Regions from separate parts of the Homo sapiens genome. Here regions 1, 2, 4, 5, 6 and 7 are each linked to region 3. The links come from fine-mapping of genetic effects on gene expression. A gene starts in region 3. Each other region holds a variant in brackets. All regions are shown on one strand. Distances are from middle to middle. Region 1 overlaps BAZ2B (bromodomain adjacent to zinc finger domain 2B). Region 2 overlaps BAZ2B (bromodomain adjacent to zinc finger domain 2B). Region 3 holds the start of BAZ2B (bromodomain adjacent to zinc finger domain 2B). Region 4 overlaps BAZ2B (bromodomain adjacent to zinc finger domain 2B). Region 5 overlaps BAZ2B (bromodomain adjacent to zinc finger domain 2B). Region 6 overlaps BAZ2B (bromodomain adjacent to zinc finger domain 2B). Region 7 overlaps BAZ2B (bromodomain adjacent to zinc finger domain 2B).

The links. PIP is the estimated chance that this variant, and not a neighbour inherited with it, causes the effect.
Region 1: its variant is fine-mapped to the expression of BAZ2B in whole blood (TOPMed, PIP 0.99).
Region 2: its variant is fine-mapped to the expression of BAZ2B in monocytes after R848 (Quach 2016, PIP 0.95).
Region 4: its variant is fine-mapped to the expression of BAZ2B in fibroblasts (GTEx, PIP 0.93).
Region 5: its variant is fine-mapped to the expression of BAZ2B in whole blood (INTERVAL, PIP above 0.99).
Region 6: its variant is fine-mapped to the expression of BAZ2B in whole blood (TOPMed, PIP 0.97).
Region 7: its variant is fine-mapped to the expression of BAZ2B in tibial nerve (GTEx, PIP above 0.99).

What each region holds. Positions count from the first base shown.
Region 1 is chr2:159,507,069-159,511,068 of GRCh38, forward strand. The region is part of intron 2 of BAZ2B (bromodomain adjacent to zinc finger domain 2B); the gene reads right to left. Among named protein-coding and RNA genes, the nearest start is that of BAZ2B-AS1, 110 kb to the right of the region's middle. The variant A/T (reference allele first, on the strand shown) is at 2,051.
Region 2 is chr2:159,571,853-159,575,852 of GRCh38, forward strand. The region is part of intron 1 of BAZ2B (bromodomain adjacent to zinc finger domain 2B); the gene reads right to left. Among named protein-coding and RNA genes, the nearest start is that of BAZ2B-AS1, 41 kb to the right of the region's middle. The variant AAAAC/A (reference allele first, on the strand shown) is at 2,483.
Region 3 is chr2:159,614,935-159,618,934 of GRCh38, forward strand. It overlaps BAZ2B (bromodomain adjacent to zinc finger domain 2B), which reads right to left and starts at 1,614. Exons shown (of 37, transcript NM_013450.4): 1 at 1,308-1,614. BAZ2B-AS1 (BAZ2B antisense RNA 1) reads left to right here and starts at 360. Exons shown (of 2, transcript NR_110588.1): 1 at 360-519; 2 at 816-3,108. RefSeq lists enhancers at 1-93, 1,150-1,676, 1,304-1,383, 1,634-1,703.
Region 4 is chr2:159,548,128-159,552,127 of GRCh38, forward strand. All of the region lies in intron 2 of BAZ2B (bromodomain adjacent to zinc finger domain 2B), which reads right to left. Among named protein-coding and RNA genes, the nearest start is that of BAZ2B-AS1, 65 kb to the right of the region's middle. The variant C/T (reference allele first, on the strand shown) is at 1,787.
Region 5 is chr2:159,578,436-159,582,435 of GRCh38, forward strand. The region is part of intron 1 of BAZ2B (bromodomain adjacent to zinc finger domain 2B); the gene reads right to left. Among named protein-coding and RNA genes, the nearest start is that of BAZ2B-AS1, 35 kb to the right of the region's middle. The variant G/C (reference allele first, on the strand shown) is at 1,633.
Region 6 is chr2:159,592,444-159,596,443 of GRCh38, forward strand. All of the region lies in intron 1 of BAZ2B (bromodomain adjacent to zinc finger domain 2B), which reads right to left. Among named protein-coding and RNA genes, the nearest start is that of BAZ2B-AS1, 21 kb to the right of the region's middle. The variant C/T (reference allele first, on the strand shown) is at 2,157.
Region 7 is chr2:159,331,525-159,335,524 of GRCh38, forward strand. It overlaps BAZ2B (bromodomain adjacent to zinc finger domain 2B), which reads right to left. Exons shown (of 37, transcript NM_013450.4): 34 at 1,016-1,162. Among named protein-coding and RNA genes, the nearest start is that of WDSUB1, 47 kb to the left of the region's middle. The variant G/T (reference allele first, on the strand shown) is at 1,720.

The DNA of each region.
Region 1 (4,000 bases), 110 kb before region 3:
TAATTATAAAAGTTTTAGATTCATGGGGCCCCAAAATAAAGTCTGGTATAATTACAAATCAAGGCCTTCTGAAAAATGCTTAGATGGTCGTCAAAGAGAGATTAGGTGGCTGCAAAGAAGAGCTAAATGGTTTTGAGAACAAAAAACTTGAGGTTTCCTGTGTAAAATATAGCCTGATACATTAAAGAGAAGTACAAAACTTGAAGAAATAGGCTCCAGAAAAAGTTTATTAGGCAACAGATCAACAGCTGATTTAGTAATGAAAGTTAGGCTTCAAACAACTACGACAGTGAGGAGGTTAAAAAAAAAATCTAAACAATTATATCTAGAAAGAATATTAATTCCAAGTTTTGGGTGAAAACTAAGAGTTGGAAAGGTGTTTCTTTGAAGAGAAAAGCAGTGGTCTCCCTAAAAAAATTTCATTTGAATTTCACATATACTAGAGGTCCAGAAAGTTCTAAGGTATTAAGGGTTTTTGAATGTGTGTCTGCTTGTGTATAAGGGATTAATATGACTTCGGAAAATTTGATGTATTTTTCAATCAATGCACTAAAACATTAGGAATCAAATTAGATCTAGGATTCATTATAATCTTCCTACCATGAGAAGTAATCTAAATTGAATAACCAAAAAACTTTAAAATAAGAAAATGAGAAGGGACAAAGTGGGTAAGAGTTATACTAAAGGTATGATTACTTTTAAAAAGAAGGAACTTAAACGTTTTAAAAACGGAGGTTCAAAAGAGATCATGTTGTTTCAAAATGGAGGTAGAGACGTTTTGAAATAAAAATAACAGCACTACGTAAGTTACTTATTTATTTATTTAGAGTCTCCCTCTGTCGCCCAGGCTGGAGTGCAAGTGGCATGATCTCAGCTTGCCACAACCTCCACCTCCCGGTTCAAGTGATTCTTGTGCCTCAGTTTCCCGATTAGCTGGGATTACAGTCATGCGCCACCATGCCCAGCTAATTTTTGTATTTTTAGCAGAGATGGGGTTTCGTCATGTTGGCCAGGCTGGTCTCGAACTCCTGGCCTCAAGCAATCTACCCGCCTTGGCCTCCCAAAGTGTTGTGATCACAGATGTGAGCCACAACGCCTGGCCTATCTATCTGATTTCAAATATGGGCTATTATACAGCCTCATAAATAGAACTTCCATCACAAGTTCAGCAGGTTCCTTGAAATGGAAGTTGGCTTTGACATTTTCTTATCCTCTTTAAATTTTCTATTTCACTTAATTTTTAGTCACAGTGACTTCTTACTTTCTTGCCAGATCAGCAAAGTCAAACTAACAACATTTAAACTACTTATCTAATTACTGAATTTGTATTCGGTAAGTTATTCAGAGTATTTAGTTTGTTACAATTATATGCTCTATAGATTATTGAAATTTTGCTTTTAACCAAGTGGAAACTTATTTCCCAAAAGATTTCTCCAAGTCTAACTTTTGTTAATGATTTAAACACCCTATAATCTCATTCCCAGTTCCTACTTAAGATTCAAATTCATATTAAGGCAAATTGCCTCAGAGGTTTGCCAAAAATAAAAAAAAAAATTCCATGAGCTATCCATGTCAGTTTCTTCAAAATTGCTGGCTATTTCAATCTCCCTATGCATTACATACTCTCATGTATACCCCCTGACCAGAAATTTAAAGAAAACTTCCAATTAGTTTTCCTTTTATTTCCAGAAATTACTCTCCGATGTCCTAAATAATATTGTCATCAGGATGACCCATTATATCTGTTATTACCATTTATTTCCTTATTGAATCCACAAGTGGTAATTCATTACTGTTTGTGGGTTTGTGATATTATATATCCCTCTTAGGGAAACTTGTAATTAGGTCAAAGTTTCCCTGTTTTAATATTGCTCCCCATTTCCTCACTCTTATAACCTTATCAAGCCAGTGAAATAATCCCTGCCTTTTGGCTTAGTGGTCCCTCACTGATCTATGAAAAGATAGGTAAACATTGTTCTCCTAATCCATATTGAATTCCAGAATTTATACTTGTAAGAGTGATCTCAAAAATGCTGAATGAAATCATTAT[A/T]GTCCTCTCTCTCACTTATAAAATATAAAATATTAACATATATCAAAGAAAATAAATTGACTAAAAAGAATATATTGGAAACACTTTCCAGTCAGATATAATTCAGTGATTTTATATTATAATGCAAAAAAGGCAACTAATAGATATCTTAAAAATGGGCAGAAATACACTTTTAATTCTAATTACTTGTGGAAACATCCTTTTATAACATTGTTCCTAGGGACTAAGAAATTCAAACTCAACGACCACTTCTAGAAAATATTACAAAACTGGGGTTACATACAACCAGAAGGCTTAATTATTTTTTAAAAGTTCACTTTAAGAGGTGGCTATTTACACATACATATGTTTTCACACATAACACATATGGCTTTTTTCCTCTCTTTTAAGAAAAATACCCTGTATGTGCTGAAGCCAGTATTCATTCAGCCTAATCTTTTACATTCACTATACAGTGTAACAGAATAAAATCAATGCTTGATTCAGCTATCTGGAAACAGTTTTGTGGTTCCTCCAAAAAGTTAATGTAAAATTACTACATGAATTGAAAACAGGGACTTGAAAACATACTTGTACACCTATATCCCTCAAAAGATGAATGAATAAACAAATGTGATATACATATATACATATTTAATATGTATTTGCATATATGTACAAACATATGTATATATGTACATTTGTATATATGTACAAATATATGGATATGTATACACAAATATATGTATATATGTACATGTATATATGAGCAACTGTGTATATATGTACATTTATACATACTAGTGTGTATGTATAAATGTACATTTGTATGTATATATGTACACATATACATATATCTATAAAATGGAACTATAAAAGGAAATGAAGTTGTGCTACATGCTATAACATAGATGAACCCTGAAAACTCTAAAGTGAGATAAGCCCAACCCAAAAAAGGACAAATATTGTATGATTCCACTTATGAAAAATATGTAGAAGAGGAAAATTTGCAGAGATGGAAAGTAGATTAGAGGTTACTAGGAGATGGGGGATGGTGAGGGAAATGGGAAGTTACTGCTTTTTTTTATTTTTAAATTTTTTTTGAGACAGGGTCTCACTCTGTCACCCAGGCTGGAGTGCAGTGGTGCGATCACAGTTTACTGCAGCCTCAACCTCCTGTGTTCGAGGCCTGAGTAGCTGGGACCACAGGCGTGTGCCACCATGCCCAGCTATTTTATTTTATTTTTGTAGAGCAAAGGTCTCACTACATTGCCCAGGCTGGCCTTGAACTCCTGGTCTCAAGTGATCCTTGAGACCCCGTCTCAGCCTTCCAAAGTGCTGGGATTCAGGCATGAGCCACTGCATCTGACCAGGAGTTATTATTACTTAATGGTTACAGAGTTTCTGTTTGGGATGATGAAAAAATTTTGGAAATACACTAATGATGGTTGTACAGCGCTGTGAATGTAATTAAGACCACTGGATTGTGTAGATAAAAATGGTTAAAATGACAAATTTTATGTTATAGATATTTTACTGCAATGTAAAAAAAATGTAATATACCAAAATCCATTAAACTATATACTTTAAATGGGTGAACTGTATGGTATGTGAATTATATCTCAAAAAAGCTATTTGTAAAAATTAATGTTTGAAGTCCTTCTTCAGTGCTTGAAGATACTGTTCTAGTTCCTTTTCCTTAAAGGAGCTTTCCTGGTCATTCCAATGACCGCTCTCTTACTGTCAACTCATAATATTTTACTTACATATCACTCATTAAGCAATTAATCTTATGCTCCTTTTGACATCTCTGGTTTTTTTAATTACTGTAACACATTTAATATTTGATTACACTTTGCTTATAAAACTAGACTGGTTGCTCAAATTATCAAATCAAGACTCATTTAATATTTGTTTATACTTTATTTACCAAACTAGATTAGTAATAGCGCAGATTGTCAAATCAGGACC
Region 2 (4,000 bases), 43 kb before region 3:
TACTCCCAAGATAACAAACCCACTTCCCAGGTAAGTGCATTAATCCCTTCATAAGGGTGGAGCCCTTGTGGCCTAATCACATCTTCAAGGCTGCACCTCTTAATACTGTTACAATGGCAACATCAAGTTTCAACATGATTTTTGGAAGGGACATTCAAACCACAGCACCAGTTTTCATCAAGCATGCCTATGTAATTAAACCCCCATAAAAACCACTAAATTACGGGATTTGTAGAGTTTCCAAGTTGGTAAACAGATCCATGTGCTGAGAGGGTAGCACACTCTGACTCCAAGGGGACAGAGACTCCTATGCTCAGGATCCTATTACACATTGCCTTATATACCTTACCAACTGGATGCTCATTTGTTATCTGTTATAATAAACTGATAAGTATAGCACTTTCCTGAGCTCAATGAGTCTCTAGCAAATAACTGAAACTGAAGGGGGTTGTGGGAACCTCTGATTAGTTTCAGCCTGTCAGAACTGTGAGTAACTGAGAGACCCTACTGGTGGCTGGCATCTGAAGTGGGGACAGTATTATGGGACTGAGACCTTAAACTGTGGGGTCTACAATAACTTTGAACAGTTACTGTCAGAATGGAATTAAATTGTTGAGACAAAGTTGGTGCTGAATAATTGGAGAATTTGTTTTTGGAAAAGCACACACAATACTCAATACATTTATTTTGGATAAATCAATAAATAAGTGAAAGTGAACAATAAATAGAAGATATATTAAACTACTCATATATTTTATTATTATTATGCATAGGCATGTTTGTAACACTTTTTAGAGCTAGATTTTTGCTGTTCTTGCAATTCATTTGTATTGAATTTTTCCATATAGATAGTGCTTGCTTTTATATTTTACAATTATTTTAACATAAGTACATGCTTTTAAACTATTATTTTCAAGTTTAAAAACACTTAAGCCAACATCCATTACCAAAACCAAAACAAAAACAAAAATCAGATTCTCCTTTATGAAACACAGAGATTAGCATGAATGTACCTGCCTCTCTCTTAATATTATTTATCCTAAGCAACATGAGAATGAGGATTGTGTTTAATTGGAATTTTCTTTTCCAGAGATTAACAGGGTGCTTAGAAGATGAGAAGTGCTCACTACCTGCTGGAAAATAAAAAGAAATATTATGAGGGCAAAATATCAAAAAGAGGACCAGAAAGTGGGAAACGAGATAGTTTTCTAGAAAACTGAAAAAGGACTAAAAAATTAGGGGTGGGGTATAACTGAATTGGGCCAAAGATTATAAGTGACCTTGAAGAAAGTAATTTCAGATAAAATAGCATGAAAAGTTAAATTTTGGATTATTTTGGCCAGGATTGCCAAAATAATCTTGAAAAGGAAGAATAAAGTTGGAAGGCTCACACTTTCTGATTTCAATTTACTACAAAGCTATAGTAATCAAAGCAGAGTAGCATGGCTTAATGCTAGACCTTTAGATCAACAGAATAGAATTGAGATTCAAGAAACAAACCCTTGCTTACATGTACAGTCAAATGATATTTGACAAGGGTGCCAAAACAATTCAATGGGGAAAGAATATCTTTTCAACAAAAGGTGCTGGAACAACTGAATATCCACATGTAAAAGAAGGAAACTGGACCCCTACCTCACACCATACACAAAAAGGAACTAAGAATGAATCAATGACCCAAACGTAAGAGGTAAAAACGTAAAATTCCTGGAAGAAAATAAAGGCGTAAATCTTCTTGACCTTGGATTAGGCAATGTTTACTTAGATATGGCATCAAAAGCACAAGCAATCAAAGGAAAAATAGATAACGTGGACTTTTGTCCTTCAAAGGACACTATCAAGAAAGTGAAAAGACAACCTACAGAATGGAAGAAAATATTTGTATATCATATATCTGAAGACAGTTGTATCCAAAATATATTTTTAAAAAACACTTATAACTACTCAATAATTAAAAACAACACAGCCAGGCACAGGTGGCTCACATCCATAATCCTAGCACTTTGGGAGGACAAGGTAGGTAGATCGCTTGAGCCCAAGAGTTCAAGACCAGCCTGGGCAACATGGCAAAATCCCTTACCTACAAAAAAATATAAAAATTGGCTGGGTGTGTTGGCATGTGCCCATAGTCCCAGCTACTTGGGTGGCTGAGGGGGAGGATCCCTAGAGCCTGGGAGGTTGAGCCTACAGTGAGCCATGATGTGCCACTGCACTCTACCCAGGATGACACAGTGAGACCCAGACCCTGACAGATGGAGAGACTGACAGACACACACACACACACACACATACACACACACACACACACACACACACACACAGCACAATTTTAAAATGGGCAAAGGGTTTGAATAGATATTTTATCAAAAGAAGATACACAAATGGCCAATAAGCATAAGAAAAGATGCTCAATATCATTAGTCATCAGAGAAATGCAAATCAAAACCACGAGATGGCACTTCACACTCACTAGAATGGCTAA[AAAAC/A]AAACAAACAAACAAAACAAAACAAAAAAAACCTAATAAGTGTTTGTAAGGATGTGGGGAAACTGGAACCCTTACACAATGCCAGTGGGATTGCAAAACATTGCAGCCACTTTAGAAAACATTTTGGCAGTTTCTCAATAAGTTAAACAGAGTTATGTCACCCAGCAATTCCATTCCTAGTTATATGCACAAGAGAACTACAAACATATGTCCATAAAAAAACCTACACGTATGTAGGTTTTGTACATGAATGTTCACAGCAACATTATTCATAATTATTCAAGTGTTCATCAAATAATAAATGGATAAACAAAATATGACACACTCATACAATGAAATATTATTTGGTAAGAAAATGAAATGAAGGCTGGGCGCGGTGGCTCACGCCTGTAATCCCGGCACTTTGGGAGGCTGAGGCAGGTGGATGACGAGGTCAAAAATTCGAGATCAGCCTAACCCCATCTCTATTAAAAATACAAAAATTAGCTGGGCATGGTGGCATGCGCCTGTAATCCCAGCTACTCAAGAAGCTGAGGCAGGAGAATCGCTTGAATCCAGGAGGCGGAGGCTGCAGTGAGCCAAGATCCTACCACTGCATTCCAGCCTGGGTAACACAGCAAGACTCCATCTCAAAAAAAAAAGAAAAGAAAAGAAAGAAAAAAGAAAATAAAATGAAGTTGTAATACATGCTGCAACAAGGATGAACTTGGAAAGCATTATGTTACATGACAGAAGCCAGTCACAAAAAACCATATATTGTATAATTCCACTTACATGCAATGTCCAGCGTAGGCAAATCCATAGAGAGAGAAAGTAGGATAGTGGGTAATGGGAGTTGGGGGAACAGGAAATGGAGAATGACTCCACAGGGAGTCCTATGCTTCTATGCTCAGGACCCTTTTGGACCTTCCCTCATTCATACCAGGGTTACTCCAGCCTGGGCGACAGAGCAACACTCTGCCTCCCAAAGAAAAAAAACCATGCAGAAAGGGAGAGTAGATAGCCTGAAAGAGGTTAAAATATACTGGATAAAAAATAGAAGTGAAGTCAATTCAACAGGCATGTATCAAGGGCTTACCATCTTCTAGACACAGAGTTATAAAGAGTTATAATATTAGGGATATAAAGGTAAATGGAGGAATTCATTAAGTTGAGAAGGCTTAACAAACCTTTGCCTCCAAAGAAGTCAACACCCAAATGATCCAAATGAAATTACAACTGCTTTTAAGGTTGGACCACAGTATTTGCCACTACTTAATTATTGAACCTCTCTAAGATTCCTAACCTGTAAAGTGAGGAATGGAGACCCTAGATCACTCACTTCTAAAATTTGAAGAGTCAAAACAATGTTGGTAGACTAGAAATTGGAATAATAGGTCAAAATCCACAAAAAGCATGATTATATGTACTCCATTAACATGATTATAAAACTCTTGAAGTGATACTAGTATGTACTCAAGAATATCATTTTCAAAAGAAAAAAATTTTAACATGATTGAATATGAAATCTCCAA
Region 3 (4,000 bases):
TAATACTTCTTTCCTTTCCTCAAAAATAAAAAAGAGAGAGACTTGGGAATAAAATTGCCCAAGATGGCGAAACGCTTGTTGTTTAGAGGGCAGGAAAAAAAATGGAGGATATTGTAATATACACAAAGGGATAAATTTCAACAACTCGGCCAAGGACTGCAGCTGCTTCCCTCTTTATAAGGAAGCAACAGACAAAAGATAAATACAGAGGGAGAAAGAAAAGAAGAGAAAATCTCCCAAACAACAGAGCCAGCTCTGACTCTTCAAACACTTCCTTCCCCTTCTCAAATCCCAATTCTGGGGTTCGTGAAACTACTTAAAGGGGAGGGAGCCGCGAAAGAGAACGGGGGCTGGGGGGAGGGGTAGCGACAAGAAGATTAAAAGAGGGAAGCAGAGGAGTTGGGAGCTGGCGGTCGTTCCCGGGGAAGAACTGCTAAAACATGAGACCAAGGCACAGACCTTACTGTATGAGAAGCAATGCTCCTCAAACCTTCTGCGTGCTGACATAGACCTTCCCAGGTATCCAGATCTTTTCCCAATCCCACCTGCCCCACCCCCACCCCCGCTCATCTTCAGTAAACTCAGAGCCTCCAGCTACACACGGGAGAGCTAGAGGCCCAAGCCGGGGAGTGGGGGTGGCAGACGCAGCTCGTCAGTCCGACAGGGAAGAGGGGGCGGAGGCAAAAAAGGGCAGCAGGAGGCGGACGGGGGTGGGGGGTGATCCAGAAACTACCCCGGCAGGGAGTGGGGGAGCAGCGGATATTCCGGGGTAGGAACGGCCATCGCAACGCTGACAGAGGTTGTTTTTTAAGAAGCAAAACTGTTGGCGGCGACCTGAGCGCTGGAAGCCGAAGGGGAAGAGGAAGGAGACGCGAAGCCAGGGCGGCCGGCACAAAGGCGGCGGACTCGCGGCGGCAGCGCCTGCCCGGCCGGGAGCACAACCCACGGCCCTACTCCAGCGAAGTCCCGCACCGGCTTCTAGGAATAAAGTTTACGTTCTCCTGAGGCCGCACCCCCCACCTCCCACCCAGGACGGCACATCTCCGTGTCCTCCTCCCCCAAACTCCACTCGGGACCCCGAGAACCACCCCAGCCTTCCGGCCACCACAACAAAGAGCCGCACCGACCGGCGAGGATAAACAGCGGCGGAGGGCGAGAGGGCGGCGGGGCGAGCGCCTCCACGCAGCAACTCCGGAGTCCCCCGCTTGCCCGAGCGCAGTTTCTCCGCTGCTGTTTCCACCGGCTTTGTAACACTGGGAATTTACATCCTCACCCGCACCCCTCACGCCCGAGGATTTTAAACTCACCTTTACTCTCGAACTGAGAGTTGCGGTAGATGGGATTTTTGCCTTTTCCCCAGATGGTTGAAGGTTAAGATTTTTGGAAACCCCACCACCTCCTTATTTCTATTATTATTTCTGCAAGAAAAGTATAAAGAGAGTTGTAGTGGAGGTGAGATTTGTGATCGGGAAAGCCTTCGACTCCCTCCTTCTCCGTCTTCCGCCTCTCTCTCTCTGATTAGTTCCTATCCAGCAGCAGATTGAAGCAGGAGATGATTCTTCTCAAGGTTTGTTCAGCAGCTTCACTTCTAGGCGAAGGCTTCATGAACCAAGTGACGTCAACCAACAAGGCTTCTCTCTCTCTCCTCTCTCTAACAATGAAAGTTGCTGTTAACAAGGGAAAAAAAGAGAGAGAATTGTTTATACCATTTCAGTTCCAATAATAAATGACCTATCAGCTCCTAAAGGAGCCAAGGGAGGGGGTTGCTTCTTCTTTCCAAGAATACTGTAGCTTTGAGTTTGCACCGTTCCTTGTCCCAGGAAAAAGTTAAGAAACTTAAAATGTTTTGTTTTGCTTTTAAAGAAGACAGGACAGAAAACGGGATTTAAAACTTAGTTTTTAAAAAAACAAAAGCTACAGAGTAGGGAGCATAGGTCAACCATCTCCACCTAAATTTTTTTTGTTCCTAAACTCAGAATTCTACAACCCAACTAAATTAATATGCCAAGATTTTGCGGATGTTAAAACTCAAAAAAAGCAGTATGCAAGACGGTCCCGGGGTAAAATTCTACTGCCTTTCCACGGACAAGTTAAACTGGCTGTAATGTTTATGCACTAAGTTAAAATAAAATTTAAATAAAAGACGTTAAAATAGTCGTTTTAAAGTTATATGCACACACTGTAAAAGGTAATCTCGATAGCTTTTTTTCAAGTTTCTGAGAGATTAGAAAAAAAGCATAGCAAATTGTAGGCACTGAACACTTTTTAAAAATCAAGTTATGAGTAAGACTGGTAGCCCTTTGCTCCTTTAAACTACAAATGCAGTCATATGCTATGGTCTACCCCCAGAATCTCTTCCAACTTTGTTTTTACCCTTCCACTCCCCCAACCCCAATTCCCAAATCCTGCAACCAATCAAGTTAAACTAAAGATACAATAGGCCCCATTCCCTCCCGCACCCCATCCTATAGATTCCTAAAAACAATTTTTTTAAAAGCCTTAATCTTGATAACACTTTATTAGCCAAGAAGATACGTATTTTTTTTTTTAGAAGTTCGTTGAGGTACCGTTTTTTCCCTCCAGAACACAAGAAAGTCTCAAAGTTCATATAATTAAAAATTGCATAATTTAATTTTCAGGATGAAGAGTAAGTAAAAATTAAGCTATCGGAGAATAATTTGATCATCTATGTATATTTTATACATATGTGGATAAATGTATCTTAAAAGATGCTATTGTTTTATGTTTCCTCTTCAGCCACTGGCTGTGATTTTAATTGTGCTGGAGGATCTTCATTAGTATTAACACATGGGGAGATTTCACAAAGCTGCTTCATTAGGAAAAAAAAAAAGCTTGGCAGACTCGGTCTTTTTGCATGCACTGAGAATGTCAGCCTTACCTCGGTCATTTGTAACATAATAAGTGCAAGTACAATGATTGCAATGCAGGAGCACTGGGGGAAGGGCAGAAATACTGCCTGTCTAATAGGGATATCTGAAAAGAAGGCTGCTCATTACAGAGTAAAATGTATGCTAAAAATTAGTGAAGATGATGTCTCAGGAGACTGATGCTAAATAAATTAATGTGCTGATATGTTTTTAATTATTATTTTTGTAGTAGTTTATTTCATTCTCAGGATTCACATTGAGCAGCAAAGCTGTGCTAGCACTTATTGATTTTTTTTCCCTGCCACATTCCCGGAATACAGATTTTAATCATTTCACTACACCACACTCAGTAATTTCATTAAAAACTGGAATCTTCCATCCCCAGAAAAGCATTTAATTTCAATGACATACAATTTCTCTTTTAGCAGCAAACTGTCTCTACAGTAAAAACTGGCCTAAGGTTCAAATGCATAATTTAATCCTGAGTTTTCCATGCTCTGCATTCCTTTCAAGCTATAATTTGAGTAACTACCTAATAACTGTAATAAGGACAATAATTTCCTTATAATATATTATTAACTCATATTTAATTAACTCGGAGGCCAAGCTCTGTACATGTATGACTGGGTCAACAGTTCTATAATCTCAAAATTTACTAATAATGTTCCAGAAGAAAAATATAGATTAAAATATAAGTATGAATGCACTTAGTATCTAAGACTTCTATCCCAAGTCACATACAAAAAAGTTAATGCATTGTTCTATAATGGTGGTCATTAAATAAATAATATTTTTAAGTATGTGGAACTAAAAAATGGAATACACTGATATTTCTATGCGTAAAGTATTGAATATTAATGTTTTAACAATCTATTACTGACACTTTACCTAATCATTAGCATTACTGTTGAAAATATTTAATTTTGAAAAGATAAGGAAAAAGTGCTAGATTCAAGTTATCTTGATTTTCATAAAGAATTCTCCCAAAATATACCTCGCTTGAAATAAAGTTAAGTGGCACACTGTAACTCGAATAATTAAGAATACATCCTTTGCTTAAATACTTCAAACAATATACTGCAAAGCATGGTTCAATTTTTGGTTCCAATAAT
Region 4 (4,000 bases), 67 kb before region 3:
TTTGAAGATACTGTTCAAAATATTCAGACTCTAGAAAACAAAATGTTTAGGATGTATTTTATAACGTTACTGTACTACATTTTAAAATTTTAACACCTTTAGATTTGTCACTTGCTATAAAATATGGAAATTCTTAAAAAGATTTTCACTTCCAGTTTTATCACTGTTATTATATTTTACTAAAGATATTTTAAAATTGACTATAACTCTACTTTTGGTATTAGAAAAGTGAAAAATAAAGGTCAGATAGTACATAGTAAACTTGTTCTGGAAATGACTATTTTTTGCACTTTTCAGATAATGACTTAACTATCACTTACAACACACTAGGAAAGATATTTGACCTTTCCAAGTCTCAGTTTGGGCATCTGTAGAATGTAATGATATATCTTTTAAAATTGTTAAAGTTTCAAATAAGTACCTAGCATCTTAAAAAATCAGTGGATAAATAAATATTAGCTTTGTTCTTCATTCCTCAACACATGTATCAAAATATATTATCAAAATTAAAAATATTTAATGATAGTCAAGTACAGTGGCTCACACCTGTAACTTCCATGCTTTGGGAGGCCTAGGTGGAAGGATTGCTTGAGGCCAGGAGTTTGAGGTTCCAGTGAGCTATGATTGTGCCACTGTAGTCCAGCCTGGGTGACTGAGCAAGACCCTGTTTCTAAAAATAAAAACATAACCAAAGAAAAACCCCACTAAAATTTAATGGAAAAGCAATAAATAATATTAAATTTACATTAAAATAACTCATCACTAGGTATCTAGCACTTACCAAAGTTTTTAGTTTATAAATTCCTATAAGAGCTGAACATTAGGCTCATTTACTTCCTCAAATGTTATATTTCAACAACGTTAAACTAAGGCCGGGCGCGGTGGCTCACGCCTGTAATCCCAGCACTTATGGGAGGCCGAGGCAGGCAGATTAGTTGAGGTCAAGAGTTCGAGACCAGCCTAAGCAACATGGCGAAACCTCATCTCTACTAAAAATAGAAAAATTAGCCAGGCATGGTGGCATGTGCCTGAAACCCCAGCTACTCAGGAGGCTGAGGCAGGAGAACTGCTTGAACCTGGGAGGCGGAGGCTGCAGTGAGCCGAGATTGCACCACTGCACTCCAGCCTGGGCAACAGAACGAGACTCTGTCTCAAAAACAAACAAACAAACAAACAACTAAAACTAAAACATTTACATGTCTCTGAACATATGTTCTTTCAAGTCTATATGCCTATTTCCTCTTTCTAGACTCTCTTCTACATTATACTTCAAAGTCTAGACCACGTGTCTCACTCCTCTGCAAACGTTTCTTGATCCCCTGTGCTAGACAGAATGAATCATTTCCCTTTCCATTCTTCTCCTAAAACTTCCAGAGCTGTCTCATCTTTTGGCTTCCCCGGGCTACACTGGATGAAGAGGGATTGTGTTGAACCACACATAAAATACAGTAACACGAACGATAGCTGATGAGCTAAAAAACAAAAATCACAAAAAAAATCTCATAATGTTTTGATAAAGTTTCCAAATTTGTGTTAGGATGCACTGATAGCTGTCCTGGGCTGCATGTGGCCCACAGGCCACAGGTTGGACAAGCTTGACTTAAACCATGGAGACAGTAGAGTTCAAATAAAACAAGTGAGATGTTTAAAAAAAAAAAAAAAAGACATTTTCACACTGGCATAAACTTTTTTCTTTCTTTTTTTTTTTTTTTTTGATACAGAGTCTTGCTGTGTAGCCCAGGCTGGAGTGCAGTGGTGCAATCTCAGCTCACTGCAACCTCCGCCT[C/T]CCGAGTTCAAGCAATTCTCCTGCCTCAGCCTCCTGAGTAGCTGGAACTACAGGCATGTGCCACCACGCCTGGCGAATTTTTGTATTTTTAGTAGAGATGGGGTTTTGCCATGTCGGCCAAGCTGGTCTCAAAACTCCAGACAAGTGATCTGCCCACCTCTGCCTGATCCACCCACCTCAGCCTCCCAAAGTCCTGGGATTAAAAAAGGCGTGAGCCACCGCATCCGGCCACAATGGCATAAACATTCTTCATCAAGCTAGCTTGGTGTATCAGGATTAGTTTTGGCCAGGAGTGACAGAAAGCCCAAAAGTGAATGGCTCATACAATACAGAATTTTATCTCTGTCATGTCAAAGAAATCCAGGGATAGGCAGGCCAGTAGGGACAGTGTAACATCATGTTAGTAAGGATTTTCTTTCTTACTGCTGCTTTACCCATTCTCAGTATAGGGTTTCCACTCACAGTCCAATTATGCTCACAATTCAGCCAGCAAGGAGGAAGGGGGCGAAAAAGAGGATGTGCACCCATTCCTTTAAGGATACATCCTGAAAGTTGCACACACTACTTCTGCCTATATATCTCTTGCCAAAATTTAGCCAGATTACTATACCTAGCTGCAAGGGAGACTGGGGAAATGATGTTTTTATTCTAGGTAGTGATATACCGGAAAAAAAATTAGAAGAGGGGGAAAACCAGTATTAGGGACAACTATCAATCATGCCATACTTGGTTATATCTTCTCTGTGGTAGGTACCTGACATTTTAAATTTACTAGCTAACACCAGTATTTCTGACAGTATGTACACTATAAAGTTATACAGCAATTCCTTCTACATCTCAATTATTAAGTATTACTATTGGGAGAGGTGTATCTCTACAAAATTTAAGTAATATTCATAATAAAATTACCAAAGAGAAAAATAGAAAAAAAAATTTTTTTGAGGCAAGGTCTTCCTCTGTAGCCTAGGCTGGAGTACAATGGTACAATCTTGGCTTACTGCAGCCTTGAACTCCTGGACTCAAGCAATCCTTCCACCTCAGCTTCCCGAGTAGCTGGGACTACAGGCTTGAGCCACCATGCCTAGCTGATTTTGTTTATTATTTTGTAGAGACAAAGTCTCACTATATTGCCCAGGTTGGTCTTTAACTCCAGGGCTCAAGCAATCCCCCCTGTTGGGCTCCCAAAGTGCTGGTATTACAGGAGTGAGAGCCACTGTGCCCAGGCAAGAAATTTTAATAAAAACAGAAAAAGCCACTTTATTTAAAAGGTTGCCGGCCGGGCACGGTGGCTCACGCCTATAATCCCAGCACTTTGGGAGGCCGAGGTGGGCGGATCACGAAGTCAGGAGATCAAAACCATCCTGGCTAACATGGTGAAACCCCGTCTCTACTAAAAATACAAAAAATTAGCTGGGCGTGGTGGCGGAAACCTGTAGTCCCACCTACTCAGGAGGCTGAGGCAGGAGAATGGTGTGAACCCGGGAGGTGAACCTGGCAGTGGGCCAAGACTACACCACTGCACTCCAGCCTGGGTGACAGTGAGACTCAGACTCAAAAAAAAAAAAAAAAAAAAAAAAGTTGCCTTAGGACAGATTATTAAATATACAGTAAAATATTAAATAAGAATATCTGAAGATAAAATATAGCCACTATAATAATGAAATTACATATAAACAAGACTGCATGTAAATGCAACTGCAAAAATACGCTCAGAGAAGACAGAGGATTAAGGGAGATTTAAGAAAATAACCTCTGAATTATTTTATTATACTTTCTATAAATGCTATTTAGACACCTTTAATCAAGTAAGAACTGATCACAAAACAGAACAGTAAAAATTCTAACAGGATAAAGCAAAGTCAGGTTAGTCCAAGTTCTCAAATCATGTAATTTTAGACAAGTAACTTTACAGATATTGATGAGTATGATGAGGGTAAGAAAAGTGTAGTATGTGCCATCTTTTGTGCTAAGTGCTTTATGAGCAATGTTTATTTAATATTCCAGACATAATAATATTATCCCTACTCTAGAAAAGAAAAAATTGGGTCTTAGACTAAGAAACTGACTCATGATCACATCAGCTACAGAAGTAGCAGAACACAAACTAAAACAAAGGTTTTTCTAACCCCAAGTCCATGTCCTTAACTATTATGTGCACTACTTTCCCACAAACTCTCTAGACCTTGGTTTTCTCGCCCATTACCTAAGGGGAAT
Region 5 (4,000 bases), 36 kb before region 3:
AATGTTTCCCAAAATGAGAGACAAACAAAATGTCCCTCAACAAAGGAATGATTTAAAAATGCTTACATTAGACAGATCAACGAGACAAAAAGTTAACAAGGATATCCAGGAATTGAACTCAGCTCTGCACCAAGCAGACCTAATAGACATCTACAGAACTCTCCACCCCAAATCAACAGAATATACATTCTTCTCAGCAACACATCGCACTTATTCCAAAATTGACCACACAGTTGGAAGTAAAGCACTCCTCAGCAAATGTAAAAGAACAGAAATTTTAACAACTGTCTCTAGGACCACAGTGCAATCAAACTAGGAATCAGGATTAAGAAACTCACTCAAAACCGCTTAACTACATGGAAACCGAACAACCTGCTCCTCAATGACTACTGGGTACATAACGAGATGAAGGCAGAAATAAAGATGTTCTTTGAAACCAATGAGAACAAAGACACAACATACCACCACCTCTGGGACACATTTAAAGCAGTGTGTAGAGGGAAATTTATAGCACTAAATGCCCATGAGAAAGCAGGAAAGATCTAAAATTGACACCCTAACGTCACAATTAAAAGAACTACATAAGCAACAGCAAACAAATTCAAAAGCTAGCAGAAGACAACAAATAACTAAGATCAGAGCAGAACTGAAGGAGACAGAGACACAAAAAAACCCTTCAAAAAATCAATGAATCCAGCAGCTGGTTTTTTGAAAACATCAACAAAACTGATAGATCGCTAGCAAGACTAATAAAGAAGAAAAGAGAGAAGAATCAAATAGACGCAATAAAAAAATGACAAACGGGGTATCACCACCGATCCCCCAGAAATACAAACTACCATCAGAGAATACTATAAACACCTCTACGCAAATAAACAAGAAAATCTAGAAGAAATGGATAAATTCCTGGACACATACACCCTCCCAAGACTAAACCAGGAAGAAGTTGAATCCCTGAATAGATCAATAACAAGCTCTGAAATTGAGGCAATAATTAATAGCCTACCAACGAAAACAAGTCCAGGACCAGATGGATTCACAGCCGAATTCTACCAGCGGTACAAAGAGGAGCTGGTACCATTCCTTCTGAAACTATTCCAATCAATAGAAAAAGAGGGAATCCTCCCTAACTCATTTTAATGCCAACATCATCCTGATACCAAAGCCTGGCAGAGACACAACAAAAAAAAGATAATTTTAGACCAATATCCCTGATGAACATCGATGCAAAAATCCTCAATAAAATACTGGCAAACTGAATCCAGCAGCAAAAGCTTATCCAACACGATCACATTGGCTTCATCCCTGGGATGCAAGGCTGGTTCAACATACACAAATCAATAAATGTAATACACCATATAAACAGAACCAAAGACAAAAACCACATCATTATCTCAATAGATGCAGAAAAGGCCTTCAACAAAATTTAACAGCCCTTCATGCTAAAACCTCTCAATAAACTAGGTATTGATGGGATGTATCTCAAAATAATAAGAGATATTTATGACAAACCCACAGCCAATATCATACTGAATGGGCAAAAACTGGAAGCATTCCCTTTGAAAACTGGCACAAGGCAGGGATGCCCTCTCTCACCACTCCTATTCAACATAGTGTTGGAAGTTCTGGCCA[G/C]GGCAATCAGGCAGGAGAAAGAAATAAAGGGTATTGAATAAGGAAAAGAGGAAGTCAAATTGTCCCTGTTTGCAGATGACATGATTTTTTATTTAGAAAACCCCATCGTCTCAGCCCAAAATCTCCTTAAGCTGATAAGCAACTTCAGTAAAGTCTCAGGATACAAAATCAATGTGCAAAAATCACAAGCATTCCTATATACCAATAATAGAGAAACAGCCAAATCATGAGTGAACTCCCATTCACAATTGCTTCAAAGAGAATAAAATACCTAGGAATCCAACTTACAAGGGATGTGAAGGACCTCTTCAAGGAGAACTACAAACCACGGCTCAACAAAATAAAGGATGACACAAACAAATAGAAGAACATTCCATGCTCATGGATAGGAAGAACCAATATCGTGAAAATGGCCATACTGCCCAAGGTAATTTATAGATTCAATACCATCCCCATCAAGCTACCAATGACTTTCTTCACAGAACTGGAAAAAACTACTTTAAAGTTCATATGGAACCAAAAAAGAGCTCGCGTTGCCAAGACAATCCTAAGCCAAAAGAACAAAGCTGGAGGCATCACACTATCTGACTTCAAACTATACTGCAAGGCTACAGTAACCAAAACAGCATGGCTACAGTAACCAAAACAGACATAGAGACCAATGGAACAGAACAGAGGCCTCAGAAATAATACTACACATCTACAACCATCTGATCTTTGACAAACCTGAGAAAAACAAGCAATGGGGAAAGGATTCCCTATTTAATAAATGGTGTTGGGAAAACTGGCTAGCCATATGTAGAAAGCTGAAACTGGATCCCTTCCTCACACCTTATACAAAAATTAATTCAAGATGGATTAAAGACTTAAATGTCAGACCTAAAATCATAAAAATCCTAGAAGAAAACCTAGACAATACCATTCAGGACATAGGCATGGGCAAAGACTTCATGACTAAAACACCAAAAGCAATGGCAACAAAAGCCACAATTGACAAATGGGATCTAATTAAACTAAAGAGCTTCTGCACAGCAAAAGAAACTACCATCAGAGTGAACAGGCAACCTACAGAATGGGAGAAAATTTTTACGATCTACCCATCTGACAAAGGGCTAATATCCAGAATCTACAAAGAACTTAAACAAATTTACAAGAAAAAAAAAATCAAACCACCACGTCAAAAAGTGGACAAAGGATACGAACAGACACTTCTCAAAAGAAGACATTTATGCAGCCAACAGACACATGAAAAAATGCTCATCATCACTGGCCATCAGAGAAATGCAAATCAAAACCACTATGAGATACCATCTCATGCCAGTTAGAATGGCGATCATTAAAAAGTCAGGAAACAACAGGTGCTGGAGAGGATGTGGAGAAATAGGAACACTTTTACACTGTTGGTGGGACTGTAAACTAGTTCAACCATTGTGGAAGACAGTGTGGTGATTCCTCAAGGATCTAGAACTAGAAATACCATTTGACCCAGCTGTCCCATTACTAGGTATACACCCAAAGGATTATAAATCATGCTGCTATAAAGACACATGCACATGTATGTTTATTGCAGCACTATTCACAATAGCAAAGAATTGGAAACAACCCAAATGTCCATCAATGATAGACTGGATAAAGAAAATGTGGCACATATACACCATGGAATACTATGCAGCCATAAAAAAGGATGAGTTCATGTCATTTGTAGGGATATGGATGAAGCTGGAAACCATCATTCTGAGCAAACTATCACAAGGACAGAAAACCAAACACCGCATGTTCTCACTCATAGGTGCGAATTGAACAATGAGAACACTTGGACACAGAGTCAGGAACATCACACACTAGGGCCTGTCGGGTGGGGGGAGGGGGGAGGGATAGCATTAGGAGATATACCTAATGTAAATTACAAGTTAATGGGTGCAGCACACTAACGTGGCACATGTGTACATATGTAACAAACCTGCACGTTGTGCACATGTACCCTAGAACTTAAAGTATAAAAAAAATGCTTACACATCACTGTATAATCCTTTTAAAGAAAACGTATTTATATATATTCACATGGCAGACTTCTGTTGCATAGGTAGAATATATAATCAAACTGCAGAATGCATATTTAATTAGATTTTAAAAAATAAGTATATATATTCATGTGCATATTAAAAAGGTCTGAAAGAATGTACAGCAAACCATTTTAAAGTAGTTCTGGAAACTGCCATCAGCAGGGCCAAAGGGAATATATTTACTTTATGAATGGACAGATTTGAGTTTCTCCGGTAAGAATATATCGCTTTGTAATACAAATAAGTAGCCACCAGAAAACATAAATGCACTGGGTAAGTTCACATACTTTTTTTTTGAGACTCTG
Region 6 (4,000 bases), 22 kb before region 3:
GGCCCAATATCATGACTTTAACAGATCTTTTAAACTGCTTGTTCTTTTTCAAGTTGCTCTATGTTCAAATTATCTTCTTTCCTCTTTCACAACATTCTCATTCTAAAAAGAGACTCTGTCTCTCTCTCAACTCTCACCCACTCACTTTGGTGGAAGCAAGCTGCCATGTCAGACACAGCACCATGGAAATGACCATGTGATCAAGAACTAAGTCCTCCCACCAACAGAACAGGGACAAGGAAAAAAGGCGTGCCAAGAACTATATGAGCTTGGAAGCAGATCTTCTAGCCCCAGTTGAGCCTTGCAATGACTGCTGCCCCAACTGACAGCGTGACAGCCACCTCTTGAGAGATCTTAAGCCAAAACCACCTAACTAAGCCACTACGAGATTCCTGAACTACAGAAACTCCAATAACAAATATGTTTTACCCTGTTAAGTTTTGAAATATTTACTAAACAGAATTAGATAAATTGATAAAGTATCTTATTCATCTCTTTATTCCCTCTCACCCCAACACTGAGTTCCTTGCCTGGAGAAGATACTTAGCAAATAAATGATGAAGCAAAGCCTTAAGATTTGTGATGCAGTTTGGCCAAAACTCATGCCAAATGGGCTTACTCTACTGCTAAGGGAAACAAAAATTTAAGCCCCCAACTCCATATGAAAACTAAAGTAATAAAAAGAAAATACATGTTCACTTAATAAAACATATGATATGCTAATCTGTACCATCAGAGAACAAAGAGTATGTCCAAAATCTATATTTCCACCTTTAAATCTATCATTATTTTCCTCAGTGATCATGCAAACTTTGACCAAATCTCTGTATTTTATCTTTGTAGAATCTGGAATGTACTTCTATGTATTCCATCAGTTGAAATCTTACCCCTCTTAGGATAATGTTCCTGCGAGGAAAAATTATGGAAGACTTTAACAAAGGGAAAAAAAAGATTATGTCCTATCTAGGGCATCATACCAAGTTATCTGTCCCTTTCACTATCCTTTTTGTTTTGGGGGTTGTTTTTTGTGGTAAAATACACATACCAGTAGTCCCCACTTATCCACATTTTCACTGTGAGGCTTCAGTTACGAGCAGTTGGCCAACGTCCAAAAATATTAAAATGAAAATTTTAGGAATCAACAATTCACAAGTTTTAAATTGTGTGCCATTTTGAGTGGCATGATGAAATTTCATGCCTTCCCCCTCAAACCTGCCTGGGACACAAATCATCCCTTTGTCCAGCATATCTACTCTATAAACGCTACCTGCCTGTTAGTCACCTAATAGTTGTCTAGTTATTAGATTGACAAAACATAGTCATCCACTGGGGGTTAGGCAGCATCCACTGAGTGTCTTGGAACGTATCTCCTCGGGGACAAGGCAGGGACTACTGTAATATAAAATTTGCCATTTTTGCCAGTTTTTTAAAAAGCCTACATTCTCCTATCCAAGTACTAACCAGGCCTGTCCCTGCTTTGTTTTAGAAATTAGAGATCGAGCACATACTTTAACCATTTTTAAGTGTACAATTAGCTGGCATTAAGTTCATTCACAATACTGTGCAACCTCCACCACTATCCATTTCCAGGCCTTTCAATTCTCTTTGAACTAAATTCTCAGACAATAAAAACACTGAACTTCTAATATTCTGCATGTGCATTAAAAAACAAAAAGTCGGCCGGGCGCGGTGGCTCACTCCTGTAATCCCAGCACTTTGGGAGGCCGAGGCGGGCGGCCTACCTTGTGGTCAGGGGATCGAGACCATACTGGCTAACACGGTGAAACCCCGTCTCTACTAAAAATACAAAAAAATCAGCCAGGCGTGGTAGCGGGAGCCTGTAGTCCCAGCTACTCCGGAGGCTAAGGCAGGAGAATGGCATGAACCCGGGAGGCGGAGCTTGCAGTGAGCTGAGATCGCGCCACCGCGCTCCAGCCTGGGCAACAGAGCGAGACTCCGTCTCAAAAAAAAAAAGTAATTAGAAAAACTAAGTATTTTAGTTTTTAATCTTAAGAACCCAAGTTTACAAAAGAAAGGTAAATCTTTGGCAAATGGGACTAATTTAATACATTCTAATTTTAAAAATTTATGGCTTTAACCAATCGGACAAGCTAGCATTAATCCTTAAAGTTTACAACATGAAACAGATAAATTCT[C/T]ATGTTCAAGTAAATTGAGTCATTATTTTGACAGTTTTTTTTTTTTTCTTGACATGTAATCTTGTTTTGTTGCCCAGGATGGAGTGCAGTGGCGTGATTATGGCTTGCTGCAGCCTCCGCCTCACAGGCTCCAGGGATCCTCCCAGCTCAGTCTCCCAAGCGGCTGGGACTACAGGCGCGTGCCAACATACCCAGTGAATTTTTTGTAGTTTTTGTAGAGACAGGGCTTCACCATGTTGCCCAGGCTGGTCTCAAACTCCTAAGCTCAAGCTGTTTGCCTGCCTTAGCCTCCCAAAGTGCTGGGATTACAGGCCCAAGCCACCGGGCATGGCCCAACAAATTTTTATTTCAACAGTAAGTATATTTTGCAGCATGGCAGCTTGAAGATAATTTTCAAATCTTTAGGTAGCCTAAAACCTTGGACTGATATTAAATAATTATTCAATGCGTAATAACTTCTAAGCAAAATACTGAAACATTGATTACTATGCATCCTTTTAAACATATACTTTTTTTTTTTTAAACGGAGTTTTGCTCTTGTTGCCCAGGCTGGAGTGCAATGGCATGACCTCGGCTCACCGCAACCTCCGCCTCCTGGGTTCAAGCGATTCTCCTGCCTCATCCTCCTGAGTAGCTGGGATCACAGGCATGCACCACCACACCTGGCTAATTTTGTATTTTTAGTAGAGATGGGGTTTCTCCATGTTGGTCAGGCTGGTCTCAAACTCCTGATCTCAGGTGATCTGCCCACCTCGGCCTCCCAAAGTGCTGGGATTACAGGCTAAACATACACTTTTGTTTCTTGTTTTTATATACTAATGACAAGCTGTTTTAGGTCATGTTAGTGGAAATGTCAATTTTTGCCACTTTAAGAGGCGAAAAAGAGGTATGCGTGCTGTAAAAAGTGGTGTTGTGTGTGCTCATGAATTCTACTAGTCTGCTAAAATGCTGGTATATGACACAGTTCTCAATTATTCACCTCCAACTTTTCTCTGTAAAACAGAAATTAGTCACTTCGACTAAAAGTTACAATTAATATGATTCATTGAAATCTGTTATGTAAGTTTAGCCTAAAGCTGCCTCTTTACATATTTTAAATTCAACCTAGAGGCTTCTCTGTACATTCTGAACTATATCTAACAAGCGGAGGTACTATCAGTCCATAGCCCACTCTTGTGCCAATCACCCAGTTTTGGCATATCAAATGTGGCCAACTGTTCCAACTGTGTTTAACTAAGGCAAATACCAAGCTGTAACCAATCCAGCTATTTCTGTACCTCACTTATGTTTTCTGTATGTCACTTCCTTTTTCTGTCCATAAATCTTCTTCCACCACTTGGCTACGCTGGAGTCTCTGAGCTTACTCTGGCTTGGGAGGCTGCTTGATTCGTGAATTTTCTTTGCTCAATTAAACACTTTAAATAAATTTGGCTGAAGTCTTTCTTTTAACAGACTATACCAGGAGCAACAATGACATGGAATCACAGCTCGGTATGTGCATTTATTTTAAAGGAAAAGGAGTAGTATTGTCCTAAAGAACGGATTCTTGTGCATTTTGGTCTCCTGGCCTCTTTACACTCTTAGGACTTGTTGAAGACTCCAAAAGAGTTTTCATTGTACATAGGTTGTAAGTCTTGATGTTTACCATATTGGAAATTAAGACTCAGAACTATTTTAAGCGCTTATTTACTGTTTCATTTGAAGACAACAATGATTAATATATTGCATTTTAGCAAATTTTAGTATTTTTATAAAAATATGCGTGACACCACAGATCCTGTTAGAAGCACGGCCCTAAAGTTTGTTCAAGAATATAAAAGACAATGAAGGACCTAACCTAGAAA
Region 7 (4,000 bases), 280 kb before region 3:
TAATTTTTGCCTGGCTAAAATTTTGTATTTTTAGTAGAGATGGGGTTTTGCCATGTTGGCCAGGCTGGTCTTGATCTCCTGGCCTCAAGTGATCTGCTCGCCTCGGCCTCCCAAAGTGCTTGAATTACAGGTGTGAGCCAACATACCCAGGCCTTAAAGCCTTGAATTTAAAGGCTGAGTATTACACAGCTATATTCAGATACAAAGGTATAGGTGCTAGAGAAATCAGAGAATTGTATTAACCAGAATAACGGTTTTACCAAGGGCAGGGGCAGGCAAAGGACCTAATGGTGGAAGCAATGATTGGGATAATGGGATAATGACACATAAGACAGAATAGGAGGAAAGAGAGGACATGAAGTGGGAGAGCAACAGTGAAAAGTCTTAAGACAAACCGAAAGTCCTGGTGAGATCCAAGGATTGTTGGAGTTGAAGTGCTACAGGGAGTGAACTGGAAGGGAAGAAAGGAGGTGGACAGATGGATGTTTGAAGTGAGTTTATGGAGAGGCGGTAGTTAAAAGTTAGGTTAAGAGATTGTTAACAATTAGCTTACTGTTAATAATTAGGTTAAGAGATTAAACATGGGAGAAAGTAACTGAGGTAGGGAATACCTAGAGTCTGCCTTCAAAAATAAACACCATAAAATTCTGCATTTTGATCTAGTAATTAAAAAGTTGTTTGGAGCCAGGTGCAGTGGCTTGCATTTGTAATTCCAGTGACTTGGCAGGCTGAGGTAGGAAGATTGCTTGAGGCCAGGGATGAGACCACTGCAGGCAACATAGCAAGACCCTATCTCTCTCTCAAAAAAAAAAAAAATTAGCTGGGTGCAGTGCACACCTGTAGTCTCAGCTACTCAAGAGATTGAGGCCAGAGGATAGCTTGAGCCCAGGAGTTTTAGGCTGTAGTGGGCTATGATCATACCACTGCACTCCAGCCTGGGCAACTGAGACCATGTATTAAAAAAATAATAAAAAGATAAAATAAAATGAAAAGTTTAGTTTTAGATTGGTCTTACCTTAGCAATGCAAGCTGGACAAAACCAGTCTCCATCTGGGATTGTTGTAATCTTGGGTCTATGGCAGTAGGTATGACAGCCTTTGTCACAGCCATCACAAAGAAGAAGCAGTTCTTCATTATCTCCCTTTCGACAGATTTGGCAGTACTATAATACATGAAAAATCATTTAAAATTAACGCTCTGCCATGAATAATAGTTATTGGGATGTTAAACACACCATAATTCCTAATTTATATTAGTAATGAACATTCCGCTTGCTTACAAATATACAGTAGCCATACACATCTATGTATCTTTCGTTACACAGATATGGACCACATGACGGGTGAGCAGTTCTATTGGGGTAAATGCACATTTCAAGTACACTGCAAAGAACAAAGCTAGAGGCAGAATGCCTTGCACACACTTCAGAAGCATGTACACATTAACATATGAAATAATTAACATGACATTAGAGCACATAAAGCAATGAATAGCTTTAATACATGATGTTTTATTTGTTTAATGTGCTTCATCTTTTGCTTATCTTAGCATCCTCATGATATCCTGAGAAAGAAATAAGAGTTAGAGTATTTTTTAAAATCAAAATTAGAAAACTTGTATTAGTATCATAATTACGTATAATAAAAAGATAACCCTAGATTTTTGACTAATTCATCTATATATTGTGATAGATTGGAAAATGTGTTCAAACCAGGAAAC[G/T]TTGAAAATCAACCCAAATCAAACATGTGTCACAAGTGCAGAAAATGGATCCTACAAAATGGTTTCTAAGGAAAAAAGATACAATACATGTAAGAAGTTAAGAGGTCATTATTTATTTTTTTAGAATTAAAAATAAAACTAGTTGTTTTCTACTGAAAATTTTCTAATATAATTAAAGACTTTAAATCTGCAAAAAGAAGACTTTTTCCATGTACACATATTCTGTACGGTAAGTTTTACAAAGGAAAGAAGAAAAGTTAGACAAGTAAAAACTTCCAAGATGGCTTTAAAAGACAGTAAGCATTAACACTGTTTTTTGACATCTAGTTCATACTCCAGTCACAAAAAAAAATGTCCTGCAGTCCATATTTTTAAAAATGAAAACATGTAACCAGAAATCATTTAAACTACTTTAAAGTTAGGTATTTATACGCTCTTAAAAACAAAATAGCTTAACTGTTCCAACTTACTTTAATTTTCAATGCAACATTATATCTTAGTCTGGGAAAGTCTAAAATGGTCTTCTTATAACTTAGTATGTATACCAATGACAGTTGTAGAATCTTATCAAAACAGCAGACACACTATTCAAGTTAACAAATGTTTATCAAATGTATATACTATATATTTCATATTAACATTGGCGCGGTTACCAAGGGCAAAAGCAGCAGTTTAACATTCCAATAATCAGTATCTATTTTTTGACCTTTCCTAACATCACCATCACTGAATACCTTAAGATGGTGTTGTTTCTCCATATTTGAGTTACATCGTTAAAACTTCTATTGTAAAAGTATTCACTGAGAAATAACAATTGCAAGGTTATATGTATATCCCTGTAACAACACAATTTAAAAATCAGATTCATGAACATAAGTAAATACTCATTGTTTTCTCTACTAGGCAACTATAAATGCTACAAGATCTGTCTTACATCTCACACTTAGGATTTAAAAATAAAATTATTTCCTGATACTTTTAAAGAAAGGGTGACAGATATCAAACTCATAACAATTTTGAAAAATTATAGTAATAGCTCACAATATGTTACAGTAAATATATTATTATTTGGTTTTAATTCCTCTGCTACTACAGTAAAAAATAGTGGATGCTGCCTACTGTTTAACAATATAAAGCATACTGTGGGTAGAGAATTATCTGGAGGCAAATTATGACAACTCCCTCTTTTTCTTGATAACCTTGGTCTTTGTCCAAAAGGGTATTTCTAAAGATATCGAGCACTTTAATATTTTGTCAGGACTTACTATGAGGATTACTATAGGCACTGTTATGTCTCTAAAGGTTATAAGGTGCTTCTTAATCTTTGAATATGAAACACTGCCTTCTTTTCAAGGTAGTTTCATAGCAAGAAATGTATTATTAAGCATTTTAAAAAGGAAATGAAGATTGTGAGAGATGGAGTTATATGATTAATAAGAGTAGATGAAGAACAAGAGAAAGGTTAATGAATTTGCAAAAATGGAAATAAAGCTATAGATTGCAGAATTTAAATATATCAATATAAAGGCAGGTTTTGATACAAGTTTTAGGTTTATGTGTGTAAGTTTATAATAAAACTGAACACATCATGATGACTGCTTTGGTGTAGATGAGAAAAATATAAATACAAATTTCATTTTGATCTAGGACTTAATCTTTTTTTTTCAGTTTTATTTACAGACAAGGTCTCATTATGTTGCCCAGGCTATAGTGCAGTGGCTGTTCTCAAGTGTAATCACAGCACACTACAGCCTCGAACTCTTGGGCTCAAATGATCCTGCCTTGGCCTCTGGAGTAGCTGGGACTATCAGCATGCACCACCATAACTGGCAAGAAATCAGTCTCAGTTTCTCTCTCTTTTTTAAAAAAATCATTATTGCCTAGATCTCACCAAATATATTTGTCTAAGGTGACATTCAAGCTGGTTTTAATAATAATTTTTAGAAGGAAAAAATATTTGTACCTGGTAAAAACACTATTAAATGAATCAAACAGTGCCTTAAAATTTATAGTAAATTCTGGGCCAGGTGCGGTGGCTCATGCTTGTAATCCCAGCACTTTGGGAGGCCAAGGCAGGCGGATCATTTGAGTTCAGGAGTTCGAGACCAGCCTGGCCAACATGGTGAAACACTGTCTTTACTGAAAATACAAAATTTAGCTGGGCATGGTGGTGCACGCCTGTAATCCCAGCTACTCGGGAGGCTGAGGGCAGGAGAACTGCTTGAACCCAGGAGATTGAGGTTGTAGTGAGCTGAGATTCTGCTACTGCACTCCAGCCTGG